4 linked regions of the Homo sapiens genome follow. The protein of the gene in region 2 purifies or fractionates together with the protein of the main gene of each other region. This does not show direct contact. Each region holds a gene or a part of one and is shown on either strand. Other genes may lie near its edges.

The links.
Region 1: the proteins of GJB7 (region 2) and GNAZ purify together in Homo sapiens (affinity purification with mass spectrometry; 2 studies listed by BioGRID and IntAct, with this or other methods). This does not show direct contact.
Region 3: the proteins of GJB7 (region 2) and RFTN1 purify together in Homo sapiens (affinity purification with mass spectrometry; 2 studies listed by BioGRID and IntAct, with this or other methods). This does not show direct contact.
Region 4: the proteins of GJB7 (region 2) and CCNYL1 purify together in Homo sapiens (affinity purification with mass spectrometry; 2 studies listed by BioGRID and IntAct, with this or other methods). This does not show direct contact.

The regions. Positions count from the first base shown.
Region 1 is NC_000022.11:23,073,519-23,080,518, reverse strand, and holds part of GNAZ (guanine nucleotide-binding protein G(z) subunit alpha), read right to left. Parts: intron 1-7,000. UniProt on the Homo sapiens protein: Guanine nucleotide-binding proteins (G proteins) are involved as modulators or transducers in various transmembrane signaling systems.
Region 2 is NC_000006.12:87,319,253-87,326,289, forward strand, and holds part of GJB7 (gap junction beta-7 protein), read right to left. Parts: intron 3,792-7,037; 5' UTR 3,614-3,791; intron 3,381-3,613; exon of another isoform or gene 3,336-3,380; intron 1-3,335.
Region 3 is NC_000003.12:16,503,680-16,510,716, reverse strand, and holds part of RFTN1 (raftlin), read left to right. Parts: intron 1-7,037. UniProt on the Homo sapiens protein: Involved in protein trafficking via association with clathrin and AP2 complex.
Region 4 is NC_000002.12:207,714,617-207,721,653, forward strand, and holds part of CCNYL1 (cyclin-Y-like protein 1), read left to right. Parts: intron 1-7,037. UniProt on the Homo sapiens protein: Key regulator of Wnt signaling implicated in various biological processes including male fertility, embryonic neurogenesis and cortex development. Activates the cyclin-dependent kinase CDK16, and promotes sperm maturation.

The sequences.
Region 1 (7,000 bases), on a different chromosome or scaffold from region 2:
CTATCCTGAAGCCATAGTCCGAGCAGATGGGAGGAAGGACTACGGTTAGTGAACACAGTGTCCCCATCCTACAGACAACCCCAGGCTATGCCCCGGCTGGGCCTCCCAGTGTCCTTCTGCTAAAGGAAGGGGAGATGAGATGACCGGGGAGATGAGATGAACAGGGAGGCCCTTCCCTGTAACCCTGTGCTGTCCTGGCTCTGGACACCCTCAGCCACCTGTCCTGTCTTTTGGCCCACAGCCACCACGGCTGACCAGACAAAGGGTGATAGTGTCGCCTGAGGAACACTGACTCAGGAGGAAATCAAGCCAGATATTTCTCTGGGCCAGGAGTAAATAAATAAATCAATATGCAAAGGTTCCACCTATGGAGGAGAGGGTGGCCATGACAGCAGAGAAGAAGTGGGGCCTTCATTAAGAGCCAAATCAAAGAGGTTGCTGCCTTGGAGAGAGCCGTAGCCCCAGGCTCCTGGCTCCCCAGTTTCCCCAGGGAAGGAAACTGCTGACTCCATCAAACCCTCACTTGAGTGGGGAATCTGATTTCACCTTCTGGGTCTTTGAGGCCCTGCAACCTCCTGCCCTCTGCCTCCATGTGTGGCATCCCACAATCCCATCCCCTACCTTGGGGACCTAGGGGCATGAGTGGTGTCCACTACATGCCCAGCACGCCTTCCCTGCGTCCCTTTCCTTGAGAACTGAGGCTGGCACCACAGGTTGTGGCTGGACCCAGCCAGCCTCAGGGGAACCCTTAATTGCCCTGACTGTCCAGAATTCTACCACTCACTCCCGCTAGCCAGCCCCAGCCTCTCATCTGTTTTGCAGCAGTATGACTTCTCTGGTCTTGCTGTCTCCAGCCCCCTGTGCCCTGTGCTCCACCAGCAGCCAGGGGCATCCTTGTAAAAATGAGGCAGAGTATGTCTCACTTGTGCTTGAAACCTTCTCATGTTTGCTCCCGACGCTTGCTTGACATGGGCAGACCCCGAGTCAAAGTCCAGCCAGGGCACCAGGGCTGTGCAATGCCTGGCCTCTCTGACTCCCACGCCCATGCTCCCCCTCCCCCACTCCTGCCATGCTGCCTCTAGCTGCCTCTCTAGCACCATCCCTCACTCTTAACTCAGGGCCTGTGCACTGGCTGTTCCTTCCTCCTGGAAAACTCTTTGTCCAGAAAGCCAAGTGGACTTCGCTTCCGCGCCCTCTCCCCATCCAATGGCTCAGATGTCCCTTCCTTAGGAGGCCTCCCTGCCCATCCTATTTACGATGGAAAATGACCCCCATATTCGCACACAGCCACACCACGTGTGCTGCCTTGCCCCAAGCATGGTCCCTTTCTAGCACACTGTATAATTTACTTAGAGTGTTTATCGCCCACCTCTTTCCCACTGTGCCATAGGGCAGGGACTGTTGGTCTGTTTGTTCATTGATGTATCCCATGTGCCCACATGGACCTAGCACCAAGCAGGTGCCAATAAATCAATCCCAGGCCCTCGTAGTGACTGAGTGAGGAATCGGTCAACGTGGCTCACGGAGGGGATAGTTGGGGACTTCTGGGAGGTCTTCTGGAAAGGCCCGTGGCCTTCCCTGGGTGGACACGGGTAGACGCACAGCCCCCGCCCACCTGGACTTGGCCGATCCTGATGCTGCCCCACGACTAAGCCCTCAGGCCCGGGAGCCAGGATGTCCCCTCATCTTGTAAGCCCTTTGGGGCTGGGCTTCTGTTGCTACCCCTGCAAGTGTGCTCCCACCCCACATACATTGCATGGCCCCTCAGCCCCCTTAGAAGCCCTGGCCCTCACCCTTGGCCTTCTTCCTGTGCCAGTGATGGGGATAATCCCCCAAACCCTGGCCCACCCAGAGCCTGGGGCTGCAGCCCATTCCCTGTGGTCCCTGGGGACCGCAGTGGCCACACCCTCCACACCTCCTCTATCCATTCCACACCATCCTGGGAGGAGGGAGAGCCCCAGAACAGCCAGCGTGGCAAGACAAACACACTGGAGACTGAGGCCAAGCACTCCAGGAGCCACGACAGAGATGGGGGTGTCAGTGTGGCCAGGAGACTCCTTGGAGGAGGTGGGCAGTGTTGGGGGGACAAGGGCAGCCCCACCAGTGCCTCTGTGTCCCAGCCACGGGGTGGGGCAAGGCTGGGCATGGCTGTGCTTGCGTGCGTGGTGTTATCATAGAGGAAATCAATGCCTGGCACTGGCCCAGTGTTTAAGGGAAATGAATAGATTTTGGCCGAGGACAAAGAGAGTTTGATTAATCCGAAATTGGATAATGGAGGCAACACTCTAATTATTTTTCTTCCCAGCATTTCATCGAGAAATATGTTTGCACAGCATATCAGAGGTAACTGAGCGGGTGAGGGGGTGACCATGCTGGAGGAAAGCCCAGCTCGGAGACAGGCCACCCGCACCCGCCCTCACCAGCAGGGGTCCTGGTAGCCACTCTACAGGGCCACAGGAAGCAAGAGGGCTGGGTGGGGCTGGCCTGAGGCCACATGCAGCTGGGGCAGCTAAGGCCAGAGGGACATGCCATGCAGAGCTGGGCAGGAGGAGGCATGAGGGCCAAGCCCTCATGGTGGAGTTGCTCCTCCCCTGGCCTGGCCACAGTTAGGGGTAGGGCCACTAGTGTGGGGGTGCAAGAGGAGTAGGGGTGAGGTACCACCAGTTCACAGGGGGTCAGGGCCTGCTGGGGTCAGGGTGAAGGCTGTAGGTGCCAAGTTCTCCCACCCATAGTCAGAAGGGTCTTCAGAAGGCCCCTCTTGGCAGCTTGGAAGGTTTTCCCAGCTTTGCCTCTGGGGAAGCCTGATTAGCTGCTCCATAGCCAAGGTCAGACAGGACCACCGGGCCCCACAAACACAGAGCCTGGTACTTTACATGCCTCAGCCCTCCTTAGTCACCTTGCCCCCTCCTCCCTTGCTGACCCCACTCCTGCAACACCTGGAGCTGAAACCACACGGTTTAGCACCTTGTTTCCGTGGCCATCCAGCCTCCCAATTCCAAGAAGGCTTCTAGGGGCTCCTTGCTGGAACAGAGATCAACATCAGGTGTACATCCAAGAGGAGGCTCCCGGCCTTGTAGAGTGGTTGAGTCTCTACCACTCATTCACTTATTCATTCTTCAGTGTACAGAAAGAGGCTGCCATGAACGAAGCATGGGGTTGGACCCTGAGGTCACTACAGGGAGTGAGGCATCAAATGAGAGAAGAGACAGTCAGCAAGCAATGACCTGAGCTGCTCATGGGACTCAGGAAGACGGAGGCCAGTCCTTCCCAATAAGGGGTTAGCATCAGTGTCACTAAGGAAGGGGCATGTAAGGAGAGATAGGGTGGGTTAAAGCTGCTAGATAGGAGGGGGTACAGTGGTGAGGTTCACCAGTCACTGGCAAGCTCATCTAAATCCTGCCTCCCGTGCCCGCTGCAGACATCACTAATCGACCATGACTCTTTCCCTCTGGGCTGCAGCACAGCCTTAGAATCCTCTTCAGCACAGCATGCTTTGGACGGTCACTCCAGAGTTGAGATAAGGAAGGAAACTATCTGTACACTTGACCCAGCCCAGAGCTTCCAACTCAAAGGCAAGGAAGGCCCAGAGAGTGGAAAGCATTCGCAGGGTCACCATCACAGGCAGAGCTGGACTTCTACCCAGGCCTGGTGCCTTCCCCTGCCCTGAGCTCCTCTACTGGCCTGAGAGGCCACTCCTTGATCTTGGGGCACAGGGGCCACCTGGAAAGGCCACTCTACCATCATCATGTTCCTTTACTACCTTCAGGGTCTTGGCTCATCCCCTTAGGACAGTTTTCCATAGACATGCCTCTGAAGGTCATCACTCTGTGAATCCCCGTGTCTGACAAAGGCCCCACTGAGTCACATTGCATCACTGAGTGGCCCGGCGTCAGCCCGAGGCATCTGTCCACCTGCCTCTGGCTTGAGAGTAACCCACAGTTGGGCCTGACGGGGCCCAGCTGGTAGCATCCACCTGAGGGTGGTTTGTGTTTGGTGGCCAAACCTGAGGCCCAGAGACACATCTCTGGGGACCCAAAGGTACAACCTCTTAGGAGCAGAGGGTTGAGCTGGAGCAGGGGTTCTGCAGCGCACGAGCACACAGCTCAGCCCTAGGGCAAAAGGGGCTGGACAGGGCCACTGAGGCATGACTGTCTGCGAATATTCAGTCCCTCCACAGCGACTCCCTGGGTGGCGATTCTCAATGGTGACTCCGCAACGTCCCTGCCCTCATGGAGCTTACACAAACACATACGATGAATGAATCAAATAGGGAGCAGGTCACGCTGTGGCGAGTGCTAAGGGGAAAAAAATAGCAGCAGGAAAGGGCATAGGAAACATGGTCAGGAACATGGCGCTGTTCTACATAGAGGCCCCACCAGCCCTGTCTGGAGCAGGGCCACAGCCTAAGAGCCAGCCCTCACTGCCATGCCAGCCTCCAGCACAGCCTCCTCCTCAGCCACCCTTCCTATGACCAACCAGGGTGAGAGGGACCATGCTGCCCAGATGCGGGGCTGCCCAGACCTACTAAGGCACTGGGCACATGAGGTCCACTCTCCACACCTCAGAGGACCTTGGCCTCCATGACTCACAGGGGCAGACCTCACAAAGGAGCAGACCTCACAGGGGCAGACCTCACAAAGGACCTTGGCCTCCGTGACTCACAGGGGCAGACCTCACAAAGGGACCTCTGTCCTGGCAGCTCTCCATCCCAGGGGCCAAGGGTCTCCTGAAAGGTTTGCTCTAACCACAACCACGGTCCCCCATGGCCATGAGAGGCCTGGCTGAGCCCTCGGGGACGGGGTGTGTTTCTGGTTGGAGGCTGCTAGAAGGAACACCCCCGGGCTTGACACTATGTGTAAGGCCCCTCCCTGCACTGTGGCTTTTAACAGTCTCGCTTCTTAGCACTTTTTGATGGATTCTCCAGGGACGTCTCTAAAAGAGAGTTATACCTTAATTTAGAAGCAAATAACTCAAAACTCTGTGATGTGGCAGCTTCCTTTGGAAAAGAGATGAACGCAAAGAAGCCATTGCTGTGTGAAGCTGTGGCCATGTAGGTCCAGGGCCTGCTGATGGGACCATCTAAACCTCAACCTCAAGATGTGCCTCCTGCTGCCTCTTGCCCAAGGGTCCACAGACCAAGGGGCAAGAAGCAAGACATTTAGTGAAGAATTGCAGCAGGCAATTGCCTGCTGCAGTTTTCACTTTGGGTTCCCTGGGCCATGGTGCCAAGGTGAAGCTCACAGGCTGGGTGTGACTGACTCCAGCGGCCCTGAAAGTCCAACGCAACCCACCCGCCCACTCAGGGAAGGGAGGAGAAATGCTGTGGGGACTGGGCAGCAGGCAGGTTGCGGGCCCACCCTCCAGGCCTTCCTTCTCCACAGGGGCCACTACATCCCCAATATTATCCTTGAGGTCCCTGTGACCAGCCAGCTTCCTGGGCACTCACTTGGGCATCCATACAGTTTTAATGCTCTGCTGTTGCTGTTCTGGAATGCATAATTTTAGTTTTACTTTTGTAGAGACAGGCTCTTACATGTTGCTCAGGCTGGTCTCAAACTCCTGACTTCAAGTGATCCTCCTACCTCAGTCTCCCATAGTATAGGATTACAGGTGTGCGCCATCATGTCAGGCCCTTAATAATTTTCAAATGGGGGCCCCCAAAATCATGTGGCCAGCTGTGCCTGCATTGCTCAGTCCCTGGGCATGCCCTGCCTGCTTGACACAGGGGACCTGCTCTCTGGGACCCGCTCTTCTCCAGCCTCCCGAGGCGCCACTGTGACTGTGCTTCCACCTCACTTGCCCGTCAATCCTCAATCTCTCTTTCTCGATGCTTCTCAACTCATCCTCCCCACAGTGGAGGCCCAGGAGCCCAGCTCAGCCTCTTCTGATCCTACCTACCCTTGATCCCTAAGTGACCTCACGTGGTCCCCGGCCTGCCACACACCTCAGTGCCAGGGGCTCCAGGTTGCCACCTCCAGCCTTGCTCTCCCTCTGGCCACATGTGCCCATCAATGGCTCTCCAGGTCTCAGACCCACCTCCTAATTCCCCACCTCTCCAGAATGGGTTTTTCTGTATCTTGCTTCTCAGCCAATACCAGCTCCATCTTTCTACTGGTTCAGACCAAAACTGCAGCTGTCCTTTAAAAGCTGCAGCTTTAAAAAAACAAATCTCCCACCTGCATTTCTCAGGGCCTCCAGAGCTCCCACCCCTGGGTCAGCAGCCTCTCTGCCTGGGATGTTGCAGTAGCCCCTCATGGCCCCCAGCCTTACCCCACCCTAGCCTATTTTCCCACCTCAGCAGAGAGATCTTTTCAAAGTGTAGATTAGCTCCTCCTGGGAGGGCAGCTCCAGTCTCTTCTCTGCTCCAACCCTGCCAAGGTCTTCCTGCCTCATTGGGGCCCACTGAGTCCTGCAGGACCTGGCCCTGACACCCCACCCACACTCCTGCACCAGGTTCCAGCCACTCTGGTGGGGCCTCCAGGGGCCAGGGAGTGTCTGCTCAGCGCCTTTGCACCTGCTGTCTCTCCCCTGCTCAGCCACACCACTCACCCAGCACTTCTGCATGGCACTGTGTCAGTCCCCCACCCCCATCTCGTGTCCCCCACCTTCTGCTTTAGTGTTCTCCACAGTGCAGCACTTAGTAACATGTGTTACTGTCAACCCCTGCCCGTCTGGTGTGAGCACTGTGAGTGGATGCTACGTCCCTGCTGTACCCCTGCACCTGGCACAGTGCCTGGCATGCAGCAGGCGCTGGTAAATGTTAGCTGAACAAATGAATGGATGAATCGCGTGAGGTTCTGCTCCTCCGGCTCAGTCCAGAGGGCTGATGTCTCCTCCTATGTGCTCTAGGATCTGTCAAGCGGTCCCTGTTGGTTCAATCCTGTGAAGCGCCTCCCCTGGCGGTGTTCGCACGAAAGGGCCAAAATGTGTGGCAGGGGCTGGTGTGGGGACAGGGCAGGGCACTCTTGGCTTTGGGTATGGATGAGGATAATGAGGTTCA
Region 2 (7,037 bases):
GGAATGAATTATAAACAAAAATGACTAAACACGTCCTATCATTCACATTGTATTCATATCCATGAAATGGGCAAGGCCTTCAGGCTTTTCTCTGTTATCTTTACCTACAGCTTGTGCTCTTTTCTTACACATGCTTATGTTTCTTGTATTCTTTCATCTGATCACTTTCTATTGATCATGACAGTAAAAGTACTTTGTTTCCATAGTGATATTTGACATGTTACAGATCACTGAGAACCCTAAGGGATAAGAAAAAAGTTTGGGTCTGCTTAGGATGCAACATAATAATATTTTATAGCCTTCCAATTGTTTTTAGCTACTGCAGTAACAGCTTTTTAATTGAAATTTAACTTATTTTGTCAGAAGATTGCCTTGTAATACCAGTTGTCAATGAACTTTTAAAAATTAAACCTCAAGCCAGGTATATACCTAAAAGAAAGGAAATCAACACATCAAAAAGATATCTGCTCTCCCATGTTTACTGCAGCACTATTCACAATAACCCAATTTAGATGCAATCTAAGTGTCCATCGACAGATAAATGGATAAAGAAAATGTGGTACATATACACAACAGAGTACTATTCAGCCATAAAAAACAATTTGCAACCACATAGATGGAACCGGAGGACATTATTTTCAGTGAAATAAGCCAGGCACAGGAAGACAAACTTTGCATGTTCTCACTTATTTGTGGGAGATACAAATTAAAACAAAAGAACTCATGAAAATAGAGTAGAATGATGGTTACCAGAGGCTGGGAAGGGTAGTGGGGATGGGGGGAGTGGGAAATGGGGATTTTTAGCGGGTACAAAAGTATAGTCAGATAAAATGAATAAGATCTAGTATTTGATAGCACAACACGGTGACTACAGTCAGCAATAGTTGATTGTACATTTAAAAATAACTAAGGGTATAATTGGAATGTTTGTAACATAAATGATAAATCCTCGATGTGGTGGATACCCCATTTACCCTGATGTGATTATTATTCATTGTATGCTTGTACCAAAATATCTCATGTACCCCATAAATACATACACATAAATATTAAAAATTTTTAAAAATTAAACCTCAAATCAAATGTGAAGTTAATTTGGCTTGGGAGAAAAAGTTTTAAATTCGAAACATATTTACCAAAGCTTTACATAAACCCATGCCAAAATATTGGTACCTTCTATTCCAACTATTCTGTTCATTTTAATATAACTTGTGTAAACCAGAAAGTCTATGAGATAGGTCTCAATCAATTTAGAGGTTTATTTCACCAATGTTAAGGACCATGGCCTGTGACACAGCCTCAGGCAGTCCTGAGAACATGTGCCCAAGGTGGTCGGGCTACAGCTTGATTTTATACATTTTAGAGAAATGGAAGTTACAGGCAAAGACATGTATCAATACATGTAAGGTATACATTGGTTTGGCCCATCTCAAAGCAGCGTGGGGGTGGGCTTCCAGGTCAAAGATGAATTCAAAGATTTTTCACATTTTCAATTAGTTGAAAGAGTTAAGCTCTGCCTGAAGATGTGAAGCCAGCTGGAGTTAAGGTAAGCGGGGGTGTTGTGGCAGCCAAGGTTCTCCTTATGTAGATAAAGCCTCCGGGTAGCTGGCTTCAAAGAATAGATGTGAATGTCTCTTATCAGACCTTAAAAGATGTCAGACTCTCTGGAAAAGACCTAGTAAGGGGCCAGGCACAGTGGCTCACGCCTGTAATCCCAGCACTTTGGGAGGCCGAGGTGGGTGGATTGCCTGAGGTCAGGAGTTCGAGACCAGCCTGACCAATATGGTGAAACTCTGTCTCTATTAAAAATGCAAAAATTAGCTAGGCTTGGTGGCATACACCTGTAGTCCCAGCTACTCGGGAGGATGAGGCAGGAGAATTGCTTGAACCCAGGAGGTGGAGGTTGCAGTGAGCCGAGATCATGCCACTGCACTCCAGCCTGGGTGACAGAGTGACACTCCGACACTCCATCTCAAAAAAAAAAAAAAAAAAGATCTAGTAAGGGAAAGAGATTTTCTATAGAATGTAAGTTTTCCCCAACAAGAGACAGCTTTGCGAGGCCATTTCAAAATAGTCAAATAAATATATTTTGGGGTAACATATTTTTATTTCTTTCAGGTCCCACTATGTGTCACGTGATGTTATTCCAGAGTCAGGTTGGAATTTTCTTATTGCTACAGTATATTTTACCAGTCTTACGATCTCCGTTTTAATGTTAATGCTGGTCAGTTGTGTCTAACCTCCAACGGGAGGAAGGTATAATGAGGCATATCCAACCGCCCACCCCTTCCCATCAGGGCCTGAACTCATTTTTCAGGGTTTTTTTGAGATTACCTTGGCCAAGACAGAGGTCCATTCCTTTCAGGGGTGGGTTGGTGATGGTGGTGCTTAGAATTTTATTTTTGGTTTTTGTATTAGTCTCTTCTCACACTGCTAGAAAGAACCACCTGAGGCTGGGTAACTTATAAAGAAAAGAGGTTTCATTAGCTCACAGTTCCACAGGCTGTACAGGAGGTATGGCTCCAGAGGCCTCAGGAAACTTACAATCATGGTGGAAGAGGAAACAAGCACGTCTTACCGTGGTGCAGGAGAGAGAGAGAAAGAGAGAGAGTGTGAAGGGGGAAGTGCTACACTCTTATAAACAAACATCTTCTGAGAACTCCATCATGGGAATGGCAAGGGGGAAGTCGGCCCCATGATTCAGTGACCTCTCACCAGGCCCCTCCTTCAACACAAGGGGGCTATTATTCCATATGAGATTTGGGTGGGGACACAGAGCCAAACCACATCAGTTTTCACGTGTATCCCAACAAACTTAAACATCAGCAAAGTATGTGCAAACCAGCATCCCTATATCTATTCTTGTCTCAACTGCACCTGCATACATCCTGCATCTTGGACTCTCAAGGCCCTAACGTAATGGCAGAGTATTAACTCTACACTTAAATGACTGTTCCCCTAAAGTAGGGGTAGGAAGAAATCAGATCTAGCTTTCTTTCCCAAATCAGAATGCTTTCCACTTTCATGAAATAAACATACTTCTAGGAGATGTCTCCTTTTATTTATACAAACATACACACCGAACTGGAACGTAATTTGAAGTTGGGAGGTGGAAAACTAAAGGTCAAAAAGGGAAGAAAGCAAAAACGTCCCTTGCACACTTCAGCCCGCAGACCCCAAGGAGGGGCGCGAGGTCCTCAGAACCGGAAAGGCTAGCACTGGATGGGTCCCCGCAGCCCCGCGCCGCTGCGCCGCAGCCTCCGGAAGACAGGGGACGCTGTGGCGCCGGGCGGGGCGCCCTCCGCCGCTCTCTCTAGCAGGCGGGGCGGCGAAGCGGGGCGGGGCGTCTCGGGCGAGGAGAGGAGGTGACCCCGCGAAAGGTAAGCGGCGGCTTCGGTGGTGTTGAGTGGCTGGGCGCCGGCCTGGAGGGGCCAGGGCGGCCGCACCATCACGCTCCCGTCTCTGCCCTTCCCAGCTGCCCTGCCGGTCTCCCTCCCAGGGAGGGAGCGTCCTCTCGGATAGCCCAAATCTTTGCCTCTCCGTGGACTCCCTGTACCCGCACCCCAAGTCGGTGAAGCTCTCTGGCCCCACAGAGCCCATTTCCCGTACTCACCTTGCGGGCTCCAGTTTGTTCGGTGCTTCATCCATGGACACCCCCACCCCGAGAACTCTCTCGTTTCCTGCAGTTTCTTAGTGTCTTGGCTCACCAGACTCATAGGGGAACATGGTGGTGTTTTGAGGAGACGCCGCTTTTCTTTTGTCATAGTGCGGACACTCGTGCTTTTTCAGCCCTGCAACACAATGTGTAGAACTTAACGGAATGAAGTTTTCTTTTGGAGGCTTCCAATGCGTCTGTCTTTGAGTAAGCCTTCGGCACCGAACAGTAGTCCATGACATTGGGGGAAGCCAGATGAGACTCAGATTGTCAGTACTCAGGCTGTCGCCAGCAAAGCCTTTCCCCTTTTTTCAGAGACAGTACTACATCCAAGAGGTGGAAAGATACTTTTGTTTTGTTTTGTTTATTTATTTATTTGTTATTATTATAAGTTTTAGGGTACATGTGCACAATGTGCAGGTTAGTTACATATGTATACATGTGCCATGCTGGTGCGATGCACCCACCAACTGGACATCTAACATTAGGTATATCTCCCAATGCTATCCCTCCCCCCTCCCCCCACCCCACAACAGACCTCAGAGTGTGATGTTCCCCTTCCTGTGTCCATGTGTTCCCATTGTTCAATTCCCACCTATGAGTGAGAATATGTGATGTTTGCTTTTTTGTTCTTGCGATAGTTTACTGAGAATGATGATTTCCAATTTCATCCATGTCCCTACAAAGGACATGAACTCATCATTTTTTATGGCTGCATAGTATTACATGGTGTATATGTGCCACATTTTCTTAATCCAGTCTATCATTGTTGGACATTTGGGTTGGTTCCAGGTCTTTGCTATTGTGAATAATGCCGCAATAAACATACGTGTGCTTGTGTCTTTACAGCAGCATGATTTATAGTCCTTTGGGTATATACCCAGTAATGGGATGGCTGGGTCAAATGGTATTTCTAGTTCTAGATCCCTGAGGAATCGCCACACTGACTTCCACAATGGTTGTACTGGTTTACAGGCCACCAACAGTGTAAAAGTGTTCCTGTTTCTCCACAGCCTCTCCAGCACCTGTTGTTTCCTGACTTTTTAATGATTGCCATTCTAACTGCTGTGAGATGGTATCTCATTGTGGTTTTGATTTGCATTTCTCTGATGGCCAGTGATGGTGAGCATTTTTTCATGTGTGTTTTGGCTGCATAAATGTCTTCTTTTGAGAAGTGTCTGTTCATGTCCTTCGCCCACTTTTTGATGGGGTTCTTTGTTTTTGTCTTGTAAATTTGCTTGAGTTGATTGTAGATTCTGGATATTAGCCCTTTGTCAGATGAATAGGTTGTGAAAATTTTCTCCCATTTTGTAGGTTGCCTGTTCACTCTGATGGTAGTTTCTTTTGCTGTGCAGAAGCTCTTTAATTAGATCCTATTTGTCAATTTTGGCTTTGGTTGCTATTGCTTTTGGTGTTTTAGACATGAAGTCCTTGCCCATGCCTATGTCCTGAATGGTAATGCTTAGGTTTTCTTCTAGGGTTTTTATGGTTTTAGGTCTAACGTTTAAGTCTTTAATCCATCTTGAATTGATTTTTGTATAAGGTGTAAGGAAGGGATCCAGTTTCAGCTTTCTACATATGGCTAGCCAGTTTTCCCAGCACCATTTATTAAATAGGGAATCCTTTCCCCATTGCTTGTTTTTCTCAGGTTTGTCAAAGATCAGATAGTTGTAGATATGTGGCGTTATTTCTGAGGGCTCTGTTCTATTCCATTGATCTATATCTCTGTTTTGGTACCAGTACCATGCTGTTTTGGTTACTGTAGCCTTGTAGTATACTTTGAAGTCAGGTAGTGTGATACCTCCAGCTTTGTTCTTTTGGCTTAGGATTGACTTGGCGATGTGGGCTCTTTTTTGGTTCCATATGAACTTTAAAGTAGCTTTTTCCAATTCTATGAAGAAAGACATTGGTAGCTTGATGGGGATGGCATTGAATCTGTAAATTACCTTGGGCAGTATGGCCATTTTCACAATGTTGATTCTTCCTACGCATGAGCATGGAATGTTCATCCATTTGTTTGTATCCTCTTTTATTTCCTTGAGCAGTGGTTTGTAGTTCTCCTTGAAGAGGTCCTTCACATCCCTTGTAAGTTGGATTCCTAGGTATTTTATTCTCTTTGAAGCAATTGTGAATGGGAGTTCACTCATGATTTGGCTCTCTGTTTGTTGCTGGTGTATAAGAATGCTTGTGATTTTTGTACATTGATTTTGTATCCTGAGACTTTGCTGAAGTTGCTTATCAGCTTAAGGAGATGTTGGGCTGAGACAATGGGGTTTTCTAGGTATACAGTCATGTCATCTGCAAACACGGACAATTTGACTTCCTCTTTTCCTAATTGAATACCCTTTATTTCCTTCTCCTGCCTAATTGCCCTGGCCAGAACTTCCAACACTATGTTGAATAGGAGTGGTGAGAGAGGGCATCCCTGTCTTGTGCCAGTTTTCAAAGGGAATGCTTCCAGTTTTTGCCCATTCAGTATGATATTGGCTGTGGGTTTGTCATAGATAGCTCTTATTATTTTGAGATACGTCCCATCAATACCTAATTTATTGAGAGTTTTTAGCATGAAGGGTTATTGAATTTTGTCAAAGGCCTGTCTGCATCTATTGAGATAATCATGTGGTTTTTGTCTTTGGTTCTGTTTATATGCTGGATTACATTTATTGATTTGCATATATTGAACCAGCCTTGCATCCCAGGGATGAAGCCCACTTGATCATGGTGGATAAGCTTTTTGATGTGCTGCTGGATTCCGTTTGCCAGTATTTTATTGAGGATTTTTGCATCAATGTTCATCAAGGATATTGGTCTAAAATTCTCTTTTTTGGTTGTGTCTCTGCCCGGCTTTCATATCAGGATGATGCTGGCCTCATAAAATGAGTTAGGGAGGATTCCCTCTTTTTCTATTGATTGGAATAGTTTCAGAAGGAATGGTACCAGTTCCTCCTTGTACCTCTGTTAGAATTCGGCTGTGAAGCCATCTGCTCCTGGACTCTTTTTGGTTGGTAAGCTATTGATTATTGCCACAATTTCAGCTCCTGTTATTGGTCTATTAAGAGATTCAACTTCTTCCTAGTTTAGTCTTGGGAGAGTGTATGTGTCGAGGAACTTATCCATTTCTTCTAGATTTTCTAGTTTATTTGCATAGAGCTGTTTGTAGTATTCTCTGATGGTAGTTTGTATTTCTGTGGGATCGGTGGTGATATCCCTTTTATCATTTTTTATTGCGTCTATTTGATTCTTCTCTCTTTTTATCTTTATTAGTCTTGCTAGCGGTCTATCAATTTTGTTGATCCGTTCAAAAAACCAGCTCCTGGATTCATTAATTTTTTGAAGGGTTTTTAATGTCTCTATTTCCTTTAGTTGTGCTCTGATTTTGGTT
Region 3 (7,037 bases), on a different chromosome or scaffold from region 2:
TGCCAGACCTTTTCCCAACATGGTTATACCATTTTACAGTCTCACCAGCAAAGAATACAAGTATGAGATTCCAGATACTACAGCCCTGTCTTTCCTATCCTAAAGTCAAGAGCATGGTTTGACTAGTGTTCTTCTGGGGCCAGAGGGAATCTGAGGCAGTGGGGAACATGTTTTTATAGGTGGAGGGGCCATAGGAAGTCCCTGACTCTGCCTGAAAATGGGTTTAAACTTAAATCATTGCAGACGATCAGATGAATATTTTATTTTTAGAGATTTTCAGAGAAGGGAATTCCATAGGGGAATGTACCCTTGGTTGTGAAAGAAGATTGATTGAGTGCTTTCTATAAAAAGAAAAATAACCCCAAGCCCCACAGAATTTTACTAAGCTTCTGCCTAGAAACTCCCGGGGGATTTCTGGTCTATTGGTAGGGTTGATATTAACTTGGTGGAGAGTCCCCTTGGATTTCACCGGCTTGGTCAGCCGGCTACTGAAAGGGGTTGTGTTTATTTTGAGGGGCAGGTCAGATTTGGCTTTGTTAAGACTCAGAGAATGACTCTCTTGTGAAAGTGATCTGGCCTCTCAGTGAGAAACATGGCCTGTCAACACCCCTCTTATTGTCCTGACTGGGAAAATGGGCCTGTGCCCCTCGGGTCCCCTAATAACTTAGTCCCTCTCTGTGGTGCCAACAGCCAAAGCTTGCCTTGGCTGATCTAGGAAACGGGAAGTGAACTTTTCTGTCTGAGTGGGACCCCAGGATGCATGTTTTGCATCCCATCAAGGTGTCCCAGGGCTGACCAAGCTTTGCAGGAGTCAGATGGCAGACAGCTCAGTCTTGAGACATTGCACTGTGTTTGGGGACTGTTCCCTCCTCCTTAAAAGCCTAGCGCAGTGCCTGCCAGAGGGTAGGGACACAGTAAACATTGGCTGAGTGATTTCGTGACTCGTGATACCCATCTGGGTGATCGCCTCTCTGGAGGTTGACAGTGGGTGTCAAGATGTCAGGGCCCCAGGATGTATTTTACTCGAGGGCACTTTACCATGGCTTGGAAAACACATTCAAAGGGTTTGGGCCTAGGAAAATTTTGTTCAGTGTAAACTTTCATTGTATTAACACTGTTCTCTTTATTACTGATTTTAATATTGTTAATAAAATACAAATAATTATAGCTGCCACTTGCTGAGTGCTTACCCTTTGCCAGGCACTGTTGTACATTTTGCACGCATTATCTGAATTTAATCCTCATGAGAGGCGAGTACTTATATTATCTTCACTTCAGCCCTGAGGAAATTGAAGCTTGCAAGGTTAACTTTCCCTAAGTTCACGTTTTCATTTTTCTAAGACCTTAAGGGAAGAGACTGTGACATTCTGGTTTTTTGAAGGCAAAATCTGTCTACAATCACGGATTTCCAAATACACAAAGCCATATTATAATAGAAATGTAAATTAGATAATCAGAACAGCGTTACAGGAAATGATACACTGCAATCATTTTCTTTAGTTTTTTTTTGTTGTTGTTTGTTTGTTTTCATTTTGTCTTAAGCTTACTGAGTTTGGCACAGCCAGGGGCTTATACTAATTTTGATGATAATTTAAAATATTATTGGTTGATTAGGATTACAATTTTATTGAAGGAACAGAAAGACGTTGCCAGCTGAACTGTTCAATACAGTAGCCACTAGTTACATGTGGCTATTTACATTTAAATGTAATGAATTAAAAGAAAAGAAAATTTAAAATTCAGTCCTTCCGTCTCACTCACCGCATTTCAAGTGGCCCAGAGCCACGTGTGGTTAGTGGCTACTGAATTGGATAGCACAGATAGTAGTTTCATCATTGCTGAAAGTTCTGTTTGACAGTGCTGCTCTGTGGTGTTTTTTTTTTACCCTTCAGTTTAAGAATTGGTAACACACTTGGCTAGGGCTTCTGCTATTTTTCACTGACAAAGGGATACATTTAGCCAGATGTTGCTTTTGTGTTTACCTTTTAAAGGGGTGTGTGTGTGTGTGTGTGTGTGTGTGCGTGCGTGTGATCTTTCCTTCCATTCACATTCAGTTTTTGACATACGTTTGAATCTCCCTTTTCTCCTGGGCCCCAAAGGGGCTTTCATTATTAGCATTGCATGTTTTATCAAGACACTTTCTCATAAAAAATTGGTACAGCAGGCAAGCGATAGCCACTGCTTGAACCCGGCTAATTCCTTGCTCTCCAAATAAGAATTCAGTTCAGCTTTTAAATATGCAATTGTGTGACTTACTCCCTACCTGGGCTGAATTCAGGAGGAAAAATCACTCTCAGTGGGCCAGAACCAAAGAGCTGGAAAATCAGGTGACATTCTGCAGTGATGGCTCCCTGCCAGGACTGAGATGGAGGAGACACCATTTGGGGTACTTGAAAGCTTCGTTTAGAGTTTTCCTGGATTTGACCTGCCTCCGGGGTGCAGGGATTGATGGAGAAGGCTGGCAGCTTTGATGTCCCAGTTACATGGGACAGTGGAGGGCTGGTACTGTGGCTGTCACCTCTGCTGGGGTGTACAGTACTTCAGAACCAGCCTCACAGGAGAGAGGAAGCCACTCCTCAGGTGTCTGCAAGCAGCAAGTCCAGCCAGAAGTGGGAAATCAACATAAGCTATGCTTGGCTCAGTTGTTTGATGCCGACAAACTCTTATGCTACTTTAAGATCCCGTATTGGAGGTTTCCACACTTCTTCAACCAGGAAGCCAGATGCACCTCACTGACAACTTTCTCTGGCGTTTACACCTGAAATGTCCCGTCGTGTTGTTCCATAGGCAGACCTCCTTGAGGGTTACAATTTATTCTTTACGGGGGCCTATCAGCTTTCATATGTGTGCATGTGTGTGTGTATATATATGTGTGTATGTGTGTGTGTGTGTATGTATGTATGTATGTGCGTTTGTGTGTGTTTGTGTGTATGTGAGTGTATGTGTGTGTTTGTGTGTATGTGAGTGTGCATGTATGTGTGTATGTGTTTGTGTGTATGTGTGTATGTGTATGTATGTGTGTGTATGTGTGTGTTTATGTGCATTGTGTGTGTATGTATGTGCGTGTTTGTGGATGTGTGCATGTGTGTGTGTATGTGTGTGTGTGTGTGTGTGTGTTTTGAAACTCCCTACTTTGCCTTTTACCCTTTGTCCTGAGGAATCCTTCAAGTTTTATGGAATAGCGCTAAAGTTCCTCAGATTTGGGGGAACTGTTGTAATAGATTTTACTCAGAAAGTTGGGTAAGAGATTTGGTTAATCATAGACTCTGGTTAATGGAACCTGATCATATCATGTATTAGCAAATTTTGGAAATATAAAGCACAAGAAATCAGGTTGTTTATTTAAACACTTCTTTAATTTAGAGAGGTCTTTTGGGATTTTCTGGTGTCTTATGATACCTTATAAGTGCCCTTTTCAGTGTGGCATAATCATGACTATAGGCCAGAGTAGGTCAAAAGGTGTCTTCATAATGAGCAACAAGTAATCCCAGTAGAGTACTAAAACGGTTAATATTTATACTGCTCTTTCTATGTGTCTGAGCTCTTCTGAGCCCTGTTAAATAGTAACTCACCCTACCTTATTTAGTCCTCACCCTAGAAGTAGATATTGCAGTTGTCCCCATTTTACAGATGAGAAAACTGAGGTTAAATGGCTTCCTTGAGGTCACACAGGTAGGAAATAAGGGCAGCAGGATTTGAACCTAGTCAGTCTGGTTCCAGAGCCTGTATGACCAACCCCTGTGCTGTACTGTTAAGAAAGTGAATTTGAGAGCCACAGATGGAATATTCCAAATGCCCTTTACCATCCTGTACCAGATAAGTGTCTTTCCTATTCCCGAAAGATGCTGCTAAGTAGGTATTTATTGTGCATCTGTTATGGGCAGGGCATTGGAATAGCTGCTGTTGGGGATGAAGAAGACCCGCTTGCTGCCTTCCAGAAATTTACTGTCATGTAGGGAGATGAGGCATTACCAAGAGCTGTGGAGCTCTCCTCTGAACTCGAAATGGTACATCCAGCGGCCTACTGCATACCTCTGCTTGGGTGGAGTTAACATGGCTAACTCCTGGCTTCTTCTACCCATCTCAGAAGATGGCCACTCCAGCCTTGCAGGTGCTGGTGACCAACCCTAGAGGTGTCTTGGATGCCCTCTTTTGCTCATCCCCTTTTTCCAAATCATCAGTCAATCCTGTTTTCTGCCTTCAAAACATATACAGAATTTGACCACTGCTCACACCTCTACTTACTGTCATCTGGGTTCCCTGCTGTCATGGTCAGTCATGGCCAGAGTAATTGATGTCTTCTTTCAGCTCGAAACCTTCCAGAGGCTTCCAACTCAGTCAGGGTAAAGCTGAAGTGCTCACGGCCCGGCCAGGCCTACGCTCTGTCTCCCCAGCCCTGTTTGACTTCACCCTGAGGTCTGCTCAGCCTCCCAGGGGCCCCACACCCCAGCTTGTTTGCACCTGCCACTGCCTTGCCTAGCCCACCCTCCCCCTTATCCCATGGCTCGCTCTGTGGCCTTCCTCATGATTTTGCTTAAACGTCACCTTCTGGGTGTGGCCTTTCCCAATCCCCGTATTTAAAACACTATACCTCCTCCTGTGATTGCTATCCCTCCCCCCTGCATTGTTGTTTTCTAGTTGGCATACTTTAAAAATGGGATTTTGTGTATTATTTTTATTTGTTTGTCTATTGCCTGTTTCTCGGCTTCTGAAGGTAAGGTCCATGAGGGCAGGCGTGCTCTTTTATTGTGTGAATCTCTTTTGTTTTACTTTGGTATCACTGGCATTTAGAACAGGGCCTTGCACATAGTAAGTGCTCATTACTTATTTATTGGATGAATCAATGGCCTAGAGTGGCAATCCTGTTAGAGCTCAGCCTTGAAGGAGTGTGATGGTTAATTTTATGTCATTTTTTCCTAGGCTACGGTGCCTAGTTTTTGGCCAAACACCAGTCTGGGTATTGCTGTGAGTTATTTTTTAGGCATGATGAACTTTGAAATCAGAAGACTTGGAGTAAAGCAGATCACCCTCCATCATGTGGGTGGACCTCATCCATTCAGTTGAAAGCCTTAAGAAAAAATACTGAGATCCACAAGAAGGAACTCTGACTCCAGACCGCCTTTGGATTCAAGATTGCAACATCAACTATTCTCTGGGTTTCCAGCCTTCTGGCCTGCCCTGAAGATTTTAAACTTGTCAGCCCCCCAATTTCATGAGCTAATTCCTTATAATAAATACCTCTATTTGTCTCTCTCTATCTGGGTACACACACACACACATCTGACTGGTTTTGTTTCTCTGGAGAACCCTGACTAATAGAGAAGATGAGAGGTACGGGAAAGGAATGTCAGGTGGAGGTCCACTGGAGGAAAAGGGTGGTGCCTGGAGAGTTCTGAGGGTGTACAAAAGATTGCAGTAGCTTAGCCTGACTTCACTCTAGGGTCAACTGTGAAAGGAAACAATGGGAGGTAGGACTGGAAAGGAGGGAGGATGGAGGGAGATTGAGGCTGAGGACTCCAAGCTGCACAGCAGATGTGATTATGCTCTTTGAGCCACTTGTGTGGTGTAAAATGGTTAATGTGGGAAAAGCTGGAGATAGGAATTAGATGGATGAGGGGGAGGCAGATTCCAGGAAAGCGTTGGTAGCTGTTGCGATGGCAGATTGGTTTGGAGAATAAAGTGGAGGAATGGATAGCATCCACCAGCTCTGGATGGGCCAATGTCAGGGTGAGGATGGTGGCGGGAGCAGGCTGATACTGGGGTTTTGGGCCTGGATGTTGGGAGGGCAGTGGTACCACCCAGAGACGAGAAATGCAGGAGGAAGAGCAAGCTTGTTGGGCAAGGTGCTGCATTCTGTGGGGCATATTCTTCCAGAAGTGCTGAGAAAGTCTCAGGTGAAGAGAGAAAGTTCCAGGTGGAGATGTTGAAACAGTTCTTGGAGATGTCTGCCTGGAGCTGGAGAGAAGACAGGCAGGCTGGGAAGGGAACTGGGGAGCTCTTGCCTGGAGCAGGTCAAGTTAGGGCAAGAGAGGGAGTGTGAGTGCTAAGGGAGAGACAATAGCATGTAAGTAACTTTTTTGAGCATACATAATACTATGTATTGGTGGTTCCCAAATTCTGTGCTAAGATACCGCAAGGCACTGCAGCAAAGGCACAGGGTGGCCAAGGGATATTTCACATCTTTGAGGGAAATGCAGCAATACTTAACATCTGTCAGATACCACGCTAACTACTAGCTTGAGGCACTTCACAATATCAACATCTGACAGTACCATATTACTCTTGATGATGTCATATCTTTACAAGCTACATTTTGGGTAGTTGCTAAGAAAATCAGTGTGGAACTGAAAATGAGGGTGGTGGTGTTCAGTGTGGTTCCAAGTTTTGAGAAGTTGCTCAGTGTCCAACAGATGCACACATCCCATTAGCAAGTAATTGTGGTTAGTTAAGAATGAAAGAAAAAATATTTCTTCTTTCAGTTTATGTGTGCTATTTTTCTGAAAGGCTGCTGTTGTTAGGCTGTGAATAAGTATTAAGTTGTTTGGACCTAACTACTTAATAAAACGAACTATTGGGTATTTTTTTTTTAGTCTAGGGCATGCCATTAAAAAATGTACAGAGAAACTAAGGGCACTGTGAACGGAGAAATCCTCAGAATCTCTGCCATATGTTGTTCTGGGTGTTATATATAGATTGTAAAAGAGTACACGCAGGGATAGAAAGATAGGGAGACAGGGAATGGCATGAGGACTGTGTCCAAGATGTCTATTTATCCAAAAATAAACTATCTGAAGCAAATAAGGTAAAAATGTAAGCACTTGTGAAATCCAGGTGGTGGATCCATGGACATCTCATTTTCTGTACTTTTCCATATGTTTGAAGTGGTTTATAATTAAAATAATTTTGGAAAAGTGAGGCAAGAGGATGGAGGAGGACAGAAATGTAGGAGGTGCCTGTGCTTGCCTGGGAGGATGGCAGAGGAGACTGGGAAGGGGTGTCTGAGGTAGAAAGAGATTCAAGAGATTGAGGGATGTGGA
Region 4 (7,037 bases), on a different chromosome or scaffold from region 2:
ATATTAGAAGCTGGCAAGAGGGAAGGTAAGGTACCAGGCATTAAGCATGGGATGATGATAAAGAGTGCTAAATCAGAAAAGTTGGAAAAAGAGAATTTGTAAGCACAGAATTTACCATTGTATGTTAGTATGACAGTTACATTTTTATTTCAATTTGTCTCAAAATTTATTTTTGTGGCATTCAATAAAGTGATAATAGAAATCTCCATTTCGGCATTTGCCTATTATTCATAAGTTTCCATAGAAACATGGCCAGAACACCAAATATAAAGTATAGACACATTGAAAGTTTGCTTTTAATATCTTTATTTCAGACAATTTTATATCAGTCTCCCTGGAAACAGAAATTCTTACTGAGATGTAAAACATTTGGCTGGGCATGGTGGCTCACGCCTGTAATCCCAGCACTTCGGGAGGCTGAGGTGGGCGGATCACGAGGTCAGGAGTTCGAGAGCAGCCTGGCCAACATGGTGAAACCCCGTCTCTACTAAAAATACAAAAATTAGCTGGGTGTGGTGGCGGGCATCTGTAATCCCAGCTACTCAGGAGGCTAAGGCAGGAGAATCACTTGAACCCAGGAGGCAGAGGTTGCAGTGAGCTGAGATCGTGCCACTGCACTCTAGCCTGGACAGTGGAGCAAGACTCTGTCTCAAAACAAACAAACAAACAAAAAATTTAGCTTTTCTACAATGAAGAATTATTTTTGTTACTTAGACAAAAATCATACATAAATGACGCTCGGCTTTGTTCTTCAAGCTATTTCTTTTTTTTTTTTTTTTTTTTTTGACAGAGCTTCACTCTTGCCTAGGCTGGAGTGCAATGGCACAAACTTGGTTCAGTGCAACCTCTTCCTCCCGTGTTCAAGTGATTCTCCTGCCTCAGCCTCCCAAGTAGTTGGGATTACAGGCATATGCCACCATGCCCAGCTAATTTTTGTATTTTTAGTAGAGACAGGGTTTCAGTATGTTGGCCAGGCTGGTCTCGAACTCCTGACCTCAAGCGATCCAGCTGCCTTGGCCTCCCAAAGTGCTGGGATCATAGGTGTGAGCCACCGCGCCTGGCCTTTTTTTTTTTTTTGAGATGGAGTTTCGCTCTTGTTGCTCAGGCTGGAGTGGAATGGCGCGATCTCGGCTCACTGTAACCTCTGCGCCCAGAGTTCAAGCAGTTCTCCTGCTTCAGCCTCCTGAGTAGCTGGGATTACAGGTGTGTGCCACCACGCCCAGCTAATTTTTTGTGTTTTTAGTAGAGATGGTTTCACCATGTTGGCCAGGCTGGTCTGGAACTCCTGACCTCAGGTGATCCACCTGTCTCAACCTCCCAAAGTGCTGGGATTACAGGTGTGAGCCACCACGCCTGGTCTCGTCAAGCTAAGAGATGCTCCTAAGAACCTAGTAAACATTTCAGATAGACTCAAAGTATTTTCTACTACCTTGCCTTTATTTAACGGTATGTCTAACATAACTGACGGTAGTATCAGTAACACAAAATAAGATACTAAGATCTTATTGTCCGATTTTATTAGTACTCTTGACTTTTCATGGAGCATTTTATGTTCTGACGTTAGGAGCTTTGCTAATTTGCTGGCTAAAGGCGCTCTCTGAAGTGACTCTTTCTATTCTTTTCCACTGATGGGTGAAGGTAGGGAAAGAATTGGCAATGTAATGTGGAAAAACCTCTGAGCAACAGATCTTTCCTCTTTCCAGTAGCTATTTTAAGCCCTCTCTTTTTTTTTTTTTTTTGCTTTTTTGAATAATATGTTTGATGTAAAAGACATAGAGAATACAGAAAAGTCATTGATTATGGTATGCATATGAATATAACATTTTATTTTAGAAAAATGAGATCATTCTATATGAGCTGCTTCATAACTTACAGCAGTGAAATAATGTCATAAATTCCTGAATCACTGCTTGACATCCAGAGAGTGCTCCAAGATATCTTTCCATGCCAGGACACCCTGCTCTATCGCATGCCTTCTAGTAACTGCTTAATGTACCATCAGATGGTTGGAGTATCATTTATTTACCTATCCTTTATGATTGGGCATCTTTTCTAGTAACATCATACACAGTCTCATTACATTTGATTTCAAGGGTACCGATAAAAACATATTTTGATGACTGATGCCTTGTACCTCCCTGTAGAATTCAGTTAAATCTATGGGTTGAGTCATTTTGTAGTTAAGATATTTTAGTATTAAATGTTCTTATGGGCCAGGTGTGGTGGCTCACGCCTGTAATCCCAGCACTTTGGGAGGCCGAGGCGGGTGGATCACGAGGTCAGGAGATCGAGACCATCCTGGCTAACACGGTGAAACCCCGTCTCTACGAAAAATACAAAAAATTAGCCGGGCGTGGTGGCGGGCGCCTGTAGTCCCAGCTACTCGGGAGGCTGAGGCAGGAGAATGGTGTGAACCCAGGAGGCAGAGATTGCAGTGAGCCGAGATCACGCCACTGCACTCCAGCCTGGGTGACGGAGCGAGACTCCATCTCAAAAAAAAAAAAAAAAAAAGTTCTTATGTCAAATTGGAGTTAGCATTGACTTTTCCCTGGACTTTAGAATTCATCATTTAATATTTTTTGTTTCTTGGTAGCCTATCTTGCATCTTTAATTCTGAATAGCTACCACTTTAAAAGATTTGATGCTTACCACTTTAAAAGATTTGATTAGATGACAAATCAAGAGAGAATGTTAGAAGAAATATTAAAAGATGTGGGAAAACTGGGAGAAACTTGACTAGTTTTGGGTGTGCTGAAACAGATGTTTATTGAGTACCTTTAGGTGGCCAGGCTGTGTTCCAGATTTAGGGCAGACAGTGGTATACAAGACAGAACCTCATCCTAACTCTGATCCTTACATTCTGGAGGGAGCTAGGGATAGATAATACATGAATAATCAAGAATGTTAGGTGGTGAGGTGCTAGGGAGAAAAGTAAAATAGGGTCATGGATTGGGGAGGAGGACAGTTACATGGGGGTTGTGGGGATGAAAGATGGCTGCTCTCCTTACGTGACCTGTGAGCAGTCCTAAAGTGAGAAGGGAGCCTTGTGAGGATGGTTGGTGAGAGCCAGGGGTCCACACAGACAGTTACTTTGGAGTTCCTTGAATGGGAGCAAACTTGTTTTTGGCCAAGGACAGAAAGACACAGGGTGGCTGCGGAAGAGTGAAAAGGATGCCAGGACTATGGTGGGTTAAGGCCATGTGTGTATAGTGGGCCTTGGCAAAGAATATAGACTTTAGTTGTGATAGGAAACCATTGGAGGATTATAGCCTGGGAAATATTTTTAATTCTTTTTTTTTTTTTTTGAGATGGAATCTTCACTGTGTCGCCCAGGTTGAAGTACAGTGGCTCAATCTTGGCTCACTGCAACCTCCGCCTCCTGGGTTCAAGCGATTCTCCTGCCTCAGCCTCCCGAGTAGCTGGGGCTACAAGCACGTGCCACCACACCCGGCTCATTTTTTGTATTTTTAATAGAGATGGGGTTTCTCCGTGTTAGCCAGGATGGTCTCGATCTCCCAACCTCGTGATCCACCCACCCTGGCCTCCCAAGGTGCTGGGATTACAGGTGTGAGCCACCATGCCCGGCCAATATTTTTAATTGTTTAAGAAAAAGATCAGACGGTGGCTCATGCCTATAATCCCAGCAGTTTGGGAAGCAGAGGCAGGAGGATTGCTTGAGCCCAGGAGTGGGCTGGGACTAGCCTGGACAACGTGCTGAGACCCTGCCTCTACAAAAAGTAAATTAGCCAGGTGTGGTGGCACACACCCATAGTCCCAGCTACTCAAGAAGCTGAGGCAGGAGAATCTCCTGAGCCCAGGAAGTCAAGGCTGCATTGAGCTGTGATTGCTCCACTGCCCTCCAGCCTGGGTGACAGTGAGACTGTCTCAAAAAAAAAAAAAGATCAGACTAGCTGTAAAAGTAGGTAGCAAAGTGATGAATAGACAAGTCACAGAAAAATAAATGCAGATGATCCTTAAACACAGCTTCACACTTAAGAGAAATACAAACGAAAACTGTGCTGTGATTTCTCTTCTGTTGGGAGAAGATCCAAAAACTTGACAATACATTCTTTGGTGTGGCTGCGAAGAGTTGCATTCGTGTATTGCTGGTTAAAATGTAAGGTGGTTTGACTCCCTGAAGAGGAATTTGGCATAATCTCAAACATTGCAAATGCATTTAATCCAGAAATCCTACTTCAAGGAATTTATCCTGAAGGCATACCCCATAAATATGAAATAACATGTGCATAAGGTTTTGTTGCATTATTTTCAATAGCTAAATATTGGAAATAATATGTCTAGTAAGAAATTGGTAAAATAAACTGTTATATCCACACAGAGGAGAATTATGGAGCTGTTAAAAAAAAAAAAAACTCTCTTTACTGCTATGGAGTGATACCCAGATATCCAGGATATGTTACATGAAAAAAAACAAGGAGGAGAATGTACAGTAATGTATGAAATAATATGTATTTGCTTATTTAAAACAACAACACTGAAAGGAATTCTTGGTGGTGGTGTGTGACTGTTTTTCCCTTAATTTCAGAGGTAGCCAAAGTGCATATTTGCTGAAGATGTTATTTTGGTATGGGCTTTCCAATAAATGCTAACTGTTCACTTTTGCTTTTAATTTGTGAAAACTTTGTTTTATAATTTATTGTGCATTATGTGGTATATAGCAATTGCTTTTTTTTTTTTTTTTGAGATGGAGTCTAGTTCTGTTGCCCAGGCTGGAGTACAGTGGCACGAGCTCAGCTCACTGCAACCTCCACCTCCTGGGTTCCAGCAGTTCTAATGCCTCAGCCTCCTGAGTAGCTGGGACTACAGGCATGTGCCACCACGCCCAGCTAATTTTTATATTTTTAGTAGAGAAGGGGTTTCGCCATCTTGGCCAGGCTGGTCTTGAATTCCTGACCTCAGGTGATCTGCCCACCTCAGCCTCCCAAAATGCTGGGATTACAGGTGTGAGCTACTGCGCCCGGCTTATAGCAATTGCTCTTGCATTTCATTTTATTCTCACTATATTTTGAGTTAGGTAGTATAAGAATTATACTTGTTTTACATATGAGAAGACAGGCTTTGAGAGGTGTAAATTGAGTTTGCCAAGGTTTTTTAATTTGTTTTTTGTTTTTGAGATGGTCTTTCTCTGTTGCCGAGGCTGGAGTGCAGTGGTGTGATCATAGCTCACTGCAGCCTCCACTTCCTGGGCTCAAGTGATCCTCTTGCCTCAGCCTCCCAAGTAGCTGGGACTAAGAGTTTTCCAAGGTTTAAAAAGATAAGACTTGGTATGGTCAGGTGTGGTGGTGGCTCATGCCTGTACTACAGCACTTTGGGAGGCTGAGGTGGGTGGATCACGAGGTCAGGAGATGGAGACCATCCTGGCCAACATGGTGAAACCCCATCTCTAATAAAAATACAAAAATTAGTTGGGTGTGGTGGCACATGCCTGTAGTCCCAGCTGCCTGGGAGGCTGAAGCAGAAAAATCGCTTCAACTCAGGAGGCAGAGGTTGCAGTGAGCCGAGATCATGCCACTGCACTCCAGCCTGGGTGGTAGAGTGAGACTCCGTCTCAAAAAAAAAAAAAAAAAAAAAAGGCTTGGTAGATCAAGAATGTAAATTTCAGATATATGGCATATAGGATTAGAATTTATAGAATGACTCATGGGCTTCTTTGGATACTGCCTTTTTTCCACCTTTTTTTCAGTTAATTAAGCTTTAGAGTTAAAATAATAACATTGGATAATGAAAAATGAAATGGAGGTACTTGTAACCCAGACTTTTTTTTTTTTTTTCTTTTCTCTGTATGAGACAGGGTCACAACTCTGCCTGTCGCCCAGGCTGGAGCACAGTAGTGCCATTAGAGCTCACTGTAACCTCAAATCCCTGGGCTCAAGTTATCCTGCCACTTCAGCCTCCCAAATAGCTGGAACTACAGGCATGTGCCTCCACACCCAACTAATCTTTTAAAAAATTTTTGTAGAGATGGGGGTCTCACTATGTTATGTTGCCCAGGCTGGTCTTGAACTGTTCTCAAGTGATCCTTCTGCCTCAGCCTCCCAGAGTGCTGGGATTACAGGTGTGAGTCACTGCACTCCACCCAGAAATACTCTTAAAAGTCTAAAAAAGGAGTTAAGTGCTATTAAGAAATACACAAAGGGAGAAAGGTATACTATAGCATATGAAATGTCACAGCTCAGTCACGATCACTAAAACATAGATTGAGGCGTGAAGGTAAGTTAAAGCAAGACTGAACACTGACATAGAAGGAGGTAGAGCAGTGTTTCGGAAACCAGATTTAGGATTGTCAGAAGCTAGGAAAGCAAAAGCAAGGCATGAGTGAGCATGAGACTGGAGCTTGGCTGGTACTGTGTGACCTCAGATGAGGCAGGGCAGCTCAAGACCCATCAGGTAAGACTTACCTGATGGGTGGAACGTGTGAACTTAGATAAAATCTCAGCGTTTACATCATAGTTGAGAGGTTTGAAATGTTTGTGTTATGGACCGTAAGACTAATACAGTGTGCAGTATGGTAGAGCAGGTCAGTAAATGCAGTAAGCCTTTAAATAAACAGATGCCCAGCAGTTGGCCCAGAAACTGCCAATGTCTCCTGTTTAATTGGGATATATTGAAATCAATATGTTGAACTCAATCTCTTTCTCTGAAATATGCTGCTTCTGTCAGTTACTTTCTTGGTTGCTGCCCTCTCCCTTTAATATTTTGACAAGAAAAATAATTTCTTTACAGTTTACAATTGCATAATTTTAACACTTTTAGCCTTTAGTAATAATGCATTTCATTTATTCTAAGTTCCATATTTTTACATTTTTAATTAACATCTGTGAAATTGAGATGGCTGATAGATTCAAGGAGAAGCAGTGTTCAATGTCAGTGGATCTTACAGATTTCTTCCCCTGAGGGGGGTGTTTATATTAAGACCTGAGTTTAATTTTTTTTTGTCTTACTTGCCCCCCATCATACTATCATGCTTTCGAATTAAGTTGCAATTTAAATTGATAATACAAAACTGGTGGGTCTTA